2 separate regions of the Homo sapiens genome follow, and region 2 is linked to region 1. Evidence: fine-mapped expression QTL. A gene starts in region 1. The other region holds a variant in brackets. All regions are shown on one strand. Distances are from middle to middle. Region 1 holds the start of HSPA12A (heat shock protein family A (Hsp70) member 12A). Region 2 holds the start of LOC105378498 (a long non-coding RNA gene).

Evidence for each region. PIP is the estimated chance that this variant, and not a neighbour inherited with it, causes the effect. A credible set is the group of variants that fine-mapping cannot tell apart.
Region 2: its variant is the best candidate, but not a certain one, in a credible set for the expression of HSPA12A in gastroesophageal junction (GTEx, PIP 0.79).

Annotation. Positions count from the first base shown.
Region 1 is chr10:116,740,058-116,744,435 of GRCh38, forward strand. It overlaps HSPA12A (heat shock protein family A (Hsp70) member 12A), which reads right to left and starts at 2,509. Exons shown (of 12, transcript NM_025015.3): 1 at 2,373-2,509. The coding sequence starts at 2,412. RefSeq lists enhancers at 2,374-3,078, 3,079-3,782 and a silencer at 2,374-2,823.
Region 2 is chr10:116,770,565-116,774,942 of GRCh38, forward strand. It overlaps LOC105378498 (a long non-coding RNA gene), which reads right to left and starts at 3,436. Exons shown (of 3, transcript XR_946339.2): 1 at 2,988-3,436; 2 at 1,802-1,955. It also overlaps a transcript of HSPA12A not described here. RefSeq lists an enhancer at 4,312-4,378. The variant G/A (reference allele first, on the strand shown) is at 2,296.

The sequences.
Region 1 (4,378 bases):
GAAATCCTTCCCAGGAAGCACAACCATTTTTTTATGTCCTTAATAGAGTGGTAACCACTGCACACATGCATAAGGGCTGTATGCACAGGTTGGTGCCCTGGAATCAGATGGCCTGGGTCCCAAACAACACTTCCCAGATGTGTGACCTTGGATAGGTCACTCAACCTGTGTTTGGATTTCCCACCCAGGAAGGGGAGAATGCTGGTAACAGGTTTGTTGTGAGCCTTTAAAACAATAAAATAATGCACGCTCTTTTCCCAGCAATGAGGAAACCTTAGAAATAAGTGTAGGGGCCAGGGGCAAGCCAACTCTGCTCCTATGCAATACTATTCACATCCTCCATTTTACAGATAAAGGGAGAGGTGCCCAGAGGCACAGTGAGCTGCCAGGGACAGCCCGCTCTTCAGGTTGGTCTCTGTCCTAAGTCCATGCACCTGGAATTCTCACTGGCCACCTTGAGCTGGAGATGACTGGAAGTGAAGAAACAAATACTCCAGAACAAACGCAGAAGAGCGGTGGCAGGTGGCTCGGCACACCAGGTATGGGTGTCCCCATCCTGGACAGGATTTCTCCCAGCACCGTGTGTGTGTGTGTGTGTGTGTGTGTGTGTGTGTGTGTCTGTGTGTGTGTGTGTGTGTGCGTGTGTGTGTGTGTTAGGATAGGGGTGCTGAATTTGATTTACAAGACAAAACAGTGTTGGGAAAGGTGTGGGGAGTGGGTACACATTCCTGCCCACTTCTGATTTGACAAATCCTATGCCCAACCTTGTATTTGGTATCATCGCCCACCCTATCCCAGCATGAGAGGCAAGAAACTGGCTCAGTAATTCTCAGGCTTTAGCAATTCAACGCCCCTACTTATCGTCCTAAAAATTTTTTTATTTTCTGACTTAAAGGAAAAAAGTAAAAAAAAAAAAAAAAAAAAAAAAAAGAGTCAATCCAGTTGCTGAGTGATGTTCAGACAAAGACAGCTGCCAGTCCATTGCCTGCGTTCACCAGCTGAGGAAGAGTACAGGCGGGGACTGGGTGTGTGTTTGGGGACGGCCTGGGCTCTCCGCTGCCTCTCCCTGGAGTGAGCCCTGTCAGGATCCCCCACCCGCCACCCTGCACTCCCCCACCACTGCAGTGCCGCGTGGGGAGGCACCTCCCTGATCCGCAGGAACAATGGGCTGGGGTGGGGGCAGGTGCGGCTTGGAGTGCAGCAGAGGGTGGGGGCCGCAGGCCCGACAGCAAGACAGGGAACCCAGCGCAGATGGTGGCTGTGCTGCCACTGGACTCAGTTTCTCCAGCTTTTGGGGCCCCGCAGAGCCAAGCGCTCGTTTCGTGGCTGAATCTCCCTTGCGTCCCGGCATTTTAATATCATCCTCGCAGGCGGCTTGCCTGTCGCTCCCGGGAAAGATGCCTGGGCCGCGCTCCTCTCCCCGGCGGCCGCTCTCGCCGAGGCCCTGCAGGTCAGGGACGCGCGGCGCCTCCATGCGCCCAACTTTCCCCACTTGGGACCCACAGGAAGACTGGAATCCTGGCCAGCCGGGCCCTCCGTGGGAGAAGCCTTGATTTACAGCCCTGGGCTCCGAAACCTGCTCGTCCTCTTCCCGCAACCCCCTTCCCCGTCCTCTCCGGCTCCCCCACCCTTCGGAGCCCTAATCACGCTCCCCAAAGAAAGCGGCCCTAGCACATCTGCAAAATGCGAGCGTCTGTCCTCCGCACTGGGTGCCTCCCCCTGCCCCCCGCAAGGAAGGGACCATCGAACCCCCGCCGCTTCACCCTTCCCCAGCCCAGTGAGTCCCTGGGGATGGGCGGGGAGGTGGGTGAGAAGCCCTTCGGCCGCAGCTGCAGCCCCCACTCCTGGCTCGAGCGTCCGGCCGGGGTGGGATGGGGCGAGGGAACAGGTCCAAATCTCCGATTTCCCCCAGGCTCCCACTCCTGCCTCGCTGAGTCACGAAAATTACCCGCTGGGGCCACCCGGCCACCCGGCGGCGGGCCCTTTACCCAGCCAGCGCCGGCCTCCGCAGCCCATCGCGCGGGGGCTGCACACGCGGGGCGGTCCTCACCCGCACGCGCGACCAGCCCCGCAGGAGGCGCCACCCGAGGCAGGGACCAACCAGGCGCCTCAGCGGGGGCTGCAGTCCCCGCCGCGGAGTCCGCACCCTGGCGGGGCGCAGAACATGTGACCCGCGGGCCGTCTCCGGTCCACCGGACCCCGGCCCCCGGCCCCGCTGCTGCTGACCCCGGCCCCGCCCGCCAGAACTGGATGCAGCGCGGGCGTCCCCACTTTTCCACGGCGCGCGAGGGGGTGCGGAGCGTTGGGCCAAGCGCGCCTCCTCCCTCCCTGCCCCGCCAGCCGCGGCCGCAGGACCCGCAGCCTGCGCTCACCTCGGGGCCCGTCGCTGCCGCCGGCCTCCTTGTCCGCCATGGTCGCGCAGCCCCGGACCGCGAGGGGAGCCTCCAGCGCAGCGCCCGTGCCCGTGCGGGTCTCTGTCCGCGTCCGCGGCGGCGCTCGGGCCGTGTCTGAGCCGCCGGGCAGCGGGAGCGCTGCTCTGACGCGGCAGCCGCCGCAGCCACGGCTCCTCCCCGGGCCCCGCCCCGGCCCGCCCGGCGCCCCGCCCCTCCGAGCTCGGGCCGGCCGGGAAAGGTCGGGGAAGGCGGGCGCGGGGAACTGCCTGGCTCCGGAGCTGCGCTCCCCGCCCGCCCAGAGCGGCCCGCCGAGGCCCGGCCTCTCCTCTCCCGGCTTCGGGACCGAGCGGTCGCCCCGCAGTCGACCGCGGCGGGGGTAGTGGCGCGCCCGGGGCTGCGCTGCGGGAGCGGATTTCAGGCCCTCGGGGCCCCGCGGCGCGTCCCCTCTTTGGAAGTCACCGAATGGCCAGGCCTGGAGCCCTTCAGCAAGCCCAGCGCGCCCGGCGCTCTCCCGAGGACGCCCGCGCCAGTCCCCACCAGCTTCTGTCTGTCCCCCAGGGTCCCAGGGGAGCGGCCCTGGGCCGGCGCAAAGGCGGGCTGGGTGGACCCCGGCGCGGGCAGGACCCAGGCCGCAGACCAAGGACCTGCGCGGGGGCCGAGCCCGGGGCACCGCCTCCAGGCCGCCTGCGGGACTCCATGGCAACTCCGGACCCAGGGAGGTGCTTGCCCCGGAGGCTGAGTCGCGCCTTCCATATATGGGATCCAGCTGGGCCCTCCTTAGAAGTCTGAGAATAACGATATTAATAATGCAAGGCTTCAGTTGTGAATGATTCATACTCCCTGTCCCCAGCTCCTCCACACACACGCGCCGCTGGCACCTGTTTGGGCCTGGCCAGGCACCCCCTGGGTCCGCGGTGTCACCACCCTGCCTTGGCAAACGAGGGCAGTAATAGGAATCCGAGGAGCACCGTCACTGGGTCGTTTCCGGGTGCCTGGCACTGTGCTACCTGCCTGGTGCTTTACCTCTATCTCCTTTCCTCCCCATAACTAACATTTTGCAGATAAGGAAGCTGAGGATCGGCAGGGTTACAATATCACACCCAGCAGGTGAGTCGCGGAGCTGGGATTCCCACCCAGCTGTAACCACCAGCATCCCTCACTTCCAGAGATGGGTGGCATTTCCCAAAGATCACCTAGGGGAGGCTTCATCGTACAATCCCGTTCTGGATGACGGAGTGGGCAGAGAGCTGCTGCGAGAGCGTTATGGATGACGGAATGGGCAGAGAGCTGCTGCGAGAGCCTGGAGACCAGAAGGTGATGGCAGAGTGACAAGTTCAAAACACAAAACTTGTCTTCTGTCTGCCTGCATTAAAAATCCCAAATGGACAGTTCCTGGCTGTGCATGAAACCACAGTCAAGTTATTTAACCTATCTGAGCCTCAATATTCTCATCTGCGAAATGGGTATAACAGGAGAACCCACTTCATAAAACTGAAGATTAGATAGACTATGCATGTAACATGCTTAGCTTGGGATCTAGCACATGGTAAAAATCATTAAGTCACTGATGGCCCCCGAGGGCCCTTCCTGCCTACGTGCCTGCGACAGCCTGCCCACAGCTCCCCCGCCCTCCTGTCTCACCCCTTCAGTCCATGCTTTGTGATCTGGTCTGTCCCCACCCTACTCCAGCTCCAGCTACAGCCGCTCTGATTCTTCAATCCCTCTCACCCACCCCTGCTTCTCTTATGCTGGTATTTCAAAGACATGAAAATGTGCTTGATGCCTGGATCACCCGTCCTCTCATTTCACCACCACCAGCAACCTAAGAACTTCTCCTTCTCATCATGGACTGCCCAACTCCAGGAAGGCTCCCCTGCATACCCATGCTGGCCAGGGGGGCCCTCCTCAGTGTCCTCAAGGCACTCGTTCCTCCCCATCAGACCAGGGCATCAGGACATTGGCCTTGACAGCCTGTCAGAAGCAGC
Region 2 (4,378 bases), 31 kb after region 1:
GCAAGGTGGGGTGGGGGTGAGGGAGGACTGAGGCAAGGTGGTAGGAGGCCAGTGGCAGAGACGCCGAGCTCCAGCTGGAGTGCTAGAGTCTGCTCTTCATAAAGGTCCATGGCTGCCGGGTTGTCCCCACCATCTCTCCTCCAACCTCCTGTGCACTGTTCCCATAAGCCCCTCCCCAGGTGCTCGGGACAGCCCTCTGCTCTTGGAAACAAGGGGCCCAGCCTCCCCTCACCAACCTCAACTTTCTGTGAATTTGCTTTAAACATGGAAGCCTCAAATGCCTGAAAGCCTTTTCTAAGGATGCCTTCGGGTCACTTAACAAGCCTCTCTTGGGGGAGATTTTTACTTTTAAAAGGAAGAATGACTTCTTTTGGCTGCTGCGGGCTGTGTGTGCTGGGGGAGGGGGCAGTGGACTGCAGGGTTGGAGTGGGGCTGTGGGCTGTGTGTGCTGGGGGAGGGGGCAGTGGACTGCAGGGTTGGGGTGGGGCATTCTCAAGTGTGCTCAAGGGGCCTCAGTTTGCAAACCCTGGACTGTGGCTCCCGAGTCTGTAGATGGAGACAGAGGTGGGCGCAGGCTCAGAGCAACCCAGAGATGCCCCAAGTCCACGGTTCAAAGGCCCTGCCCATTTTGCCTCCAACATAGGGCCTGACTGGGCTGCCCCAGTGACACGCTCTGAAGAGGCACATTCACAGGCGAGATAAAACAAGGACACTCGCTGGGAGCTGGGGCCATCAGCAGCCGCTGGCTGTGGAGGCCACACAGAGGGGAGGGGAGGACAGGGGCCCTGACGAGATACTGGGGCCAGAGGCCAAAACTGAAAACCTAGGGGTGAGCCCACCAGCAAAGCCAGTGACAGGCCTGGGTGAAGGGTCACCCTCCTCCGGGAGCTGAAATGGGAACTGAGGAAGGAAGAGAAGCCACTGGAATATTTTAAGCAACGAAAGAGGCCAGGGCAGAGCCTGGGTCTGAATCATTTCCAGGGCCTAGACAGAGGGCCCCCGGGAGGATGTTTCCGGAATGAATACATCCAAAAGGATGGGACGGCAATTGCGAAATTCCATCATGGGAAATCCCTGCCTGCCAGCATGTTTACCAGGAGCCCAGGGACGGGGTGGATGAGAGGCAGTCCCTGCAGTTTCTCTCTGCAGTGGATGGAGGTTTCTCTCCCAAACAAGGGGCGCTTGCTTGTCAACCTACAAGGGGCCCAGATAGAAAGGCAGAAAAGGGGACAATGGTGAGAGTGCACCCCCAAGGTGCCTTGGGTTCCAGAAGCATGGAGTTGGGAGAACTGCTGGGGGCGGTGGGGAGGTGGCATCCTCTGGGGCCTATATTGATGCCAACTCCAGTCCAGGCAGGCTGCTCCAGCAGCTGTGCTGTCTCAGCCACGGCCACACCTGAACAGTCCCCACCGTATTTCCCATCTCCACATTTCCAGGTGAGCTACACTCAATAAGCTTAACATGGGAGAGGGCAGAGGCAGGACGAGGCTGGATGCCAGGCCATTCCCTGAGATGACAGCACAGGACGGGAGCGGGGGTAGTGGCGAGGATGATGGTGTTCCCGCCTTGGGACACTAAATGACCTGGGTGTCTCTGGGACATGCAAGTGGAGATGTCCAGATAAGGCTGGATCACGTGGGTTCAGGGATCATCAGTGCTGGGGCAGGGGGTACTGTGAAGCCATTGAGTGGAGGAGCTGATCTTGGATCCTGTGTACAGGTGAAGAGAGGAGATCCCAGGACAGACCCCCAGAGCCCCAGAGCCCCAACACTTGGCAGAAGAAGAGGATCTCAGACTCTACCCCACTTGCTCCTGGGACCAGCAGGGCTGGCTCTGCTGGCAGAAAATGCTGAGCAGACTCTGTGGAGCTGCATGCCAGGCCCAAACTCAGAGCTCTGTCTCCAGGAAGATGCTTTCAGGGAATATTTGTAACAGCCCTTTTGCAGATGCTGAAACTGAGACCCAGAGAAGTTAAATCACAACTTGAAGGCACGAGAGCAAATGAGGCCCGAAGCTGTCTGGCTCCAAAGTTCCAAGTTTTATCCCTGGGCCCTATCTCTGCTCTAGGAAAGCCTGTGGTTCTTCTTTTTCTTTTCCTTTCTATCTTTATTTTATTTATTTGTTTATTTATTTATTTATTTATTTGGAGACAGGGTCTCCCTCTCTATTGCCTAGGCTGGAGTGCAGTGGTGTGATCACGGCTCACTGCAGCCTCAACCTCCTGGGCTCAAGCGATCCTCCCAACTTAGGCTCCTAAGTAGCTGGGACTGCAGGCACACACCACCACATCTGGCT[G/A]ATTATTATTATTATTATTATTTGTAAAGACAGAGTCTCACTATGCTGCCTAGGCTGGTCTTGAACTCCTAGTCTCAAGCAATTCTCCCACCTTGGCCTCCCAAAGTGCTGGTATTAACAGGCATGAGCCACTGCACCTGGCCACCTGTGGTTCTTCTGAGAAGGGGCTCATTCAGTCAGGACCGGGGACCCTAGCTAGACTAAAAGTCTGGGTGAGCCAGGGGACTTCCAAACAACTGCAGCCCCAGCTGCTCCCGTTGACTCCCCCTGGGCCCTCCTTCCTCCCACTCCTTTTCCTCTGCACAGCAGGCAAGGTCCCAGGGAGGCAAGAGCAGGCCCAGGTGGGCCCAGGCATTTCCCCAGCCCCTCCAGAGGCCCAGGATGAACTGGCCTGGGATGAGGCCCTGCTAATGAGCAAAGGCTTCAGTCCACTGAGCAGTACATGGTAGCACAGAAGAAGGCCTGGTACACCAACAGCAAATTGCATTTCCTTCTCAGAACCCTCAGCTCTGGTCTGGTACCCCCAGGCAACAACAGCCTAGCGGGCAGACAGGACAGGAGGCCTGGGAGCTGTGCGTCACTCAAAGCCAGACTGGAGAGTGACAATTGCCTTCGCAGCTCCCAGCGGGTTTCGAGAAGGTAACATGACCAGGGAGCAGTTCTGCCTCCCTTCTGTCACCTCTGAACCTCACCTTGGCCCATGGCCCCTCAACCTTGACTGATGCTAAGTAAGCAGTCTCCTCCTCCTTATTCCCTGGCCAACCTGCCCAGCTCACAGTGGGGGCCTCAGCCAAGGGTTGTCAACTGCAGCCTGAGAAAGTCTTTCTCACTGACTTGCCCCAAGAAGGGATTCCACTCAGCTGACAATTATGAAGCTCTGGCTGGTCCCTGGTCCTGGGCAGGGGCAAAGCTGCAAAACAGCCCACAGGGAGCTCACAGTGCCTGTGGTAATGATGATGACGATGATGGTGATGATGCTGACAATGGTCATTATCATGGTGACGGGGTGGAGGACTTGGAGCCAGGAGACCTAATTACAAATGATAACTATGCCACCATTCAGCTGAATGACCTTGGGTAGGTTACTTACCCTCTTTGGTCTTGAGTGGCATTCACTATGACATGGGGTGGGGGAACCTGCTCTGTGGCAAGGGCTTTTTTTTTTTTTGAGACGGAGTCTCGCTCTGTCCCCCAGGCTGGAGTGCAGTGGCGGGATCTCTGCTCACTGCAAGCTCCGCCTCCCGGGTTCACGCCATTCTCCTGCCTCAGCCTCCCAAGTAGCTGGGACTACAGGCGCCCGCCACTACGCCCGGCTAATTTTTTGTATTTTTAGTAGAGACGGGGTTTCACCGTTTTAGCCGGGATGGTCTCGATCTCCTGACCTCGTGATCCGCCCGCCTCGGCCTCCCAAAGTGCTGGGATTACAGGCGTGAGCCACCGCGCCCGGCCGGCAAGGGCTTTTTTGAAATATTTGCCATAGAGCACTCTGCGAGGGTCCCAGGTGATACTGCACCAATGCCTAGTTCAGTCCCTGACCAGTGTGGTCCCTGACCAGCAGCATTAACAACTCTTGGGCACTTAATAGAAATGCAAATTCTCAGGCCCCAAGGCAGATCTACTGACCCAGAGACTCTGGGTAGGGCCCAGCAACTGCACATCTCACACTCTTGCCAAAGTGTGAGAACCCCTGGAATAAAGAAATGTCAATGGTGCTCTTGGGTCTCTTCACAGACGTGGCTCTGCTAGAGGACTGGCCTTTTGGAGCAGGAGTTCATGGCCCAGATCCATCTCTTAGGAGAAAGGATTGGAGAGTGGGACATTGAGAGGGAGGCCTTCTGTGCACCCCTTCATTCACCCACCAGAAAACCCAGGTCCACCATTGAATAAGCTCCTCCCCCAGTCCCATGCCTGCCCACGTGGCCCTGGCCTGACTCCACCCTGACCCTGCAGGCTGCACAAGCCTGGAGCCCTCCACCCTGGCCCCTGCAGGCCCCAGTCCTGCCGGCTCCTGCACCAGCCCCTCGTGTTGGCTATACTGCCATGGCATAGGTCCAGCTGGCATCCTGTCACTCCACTCCCTCCC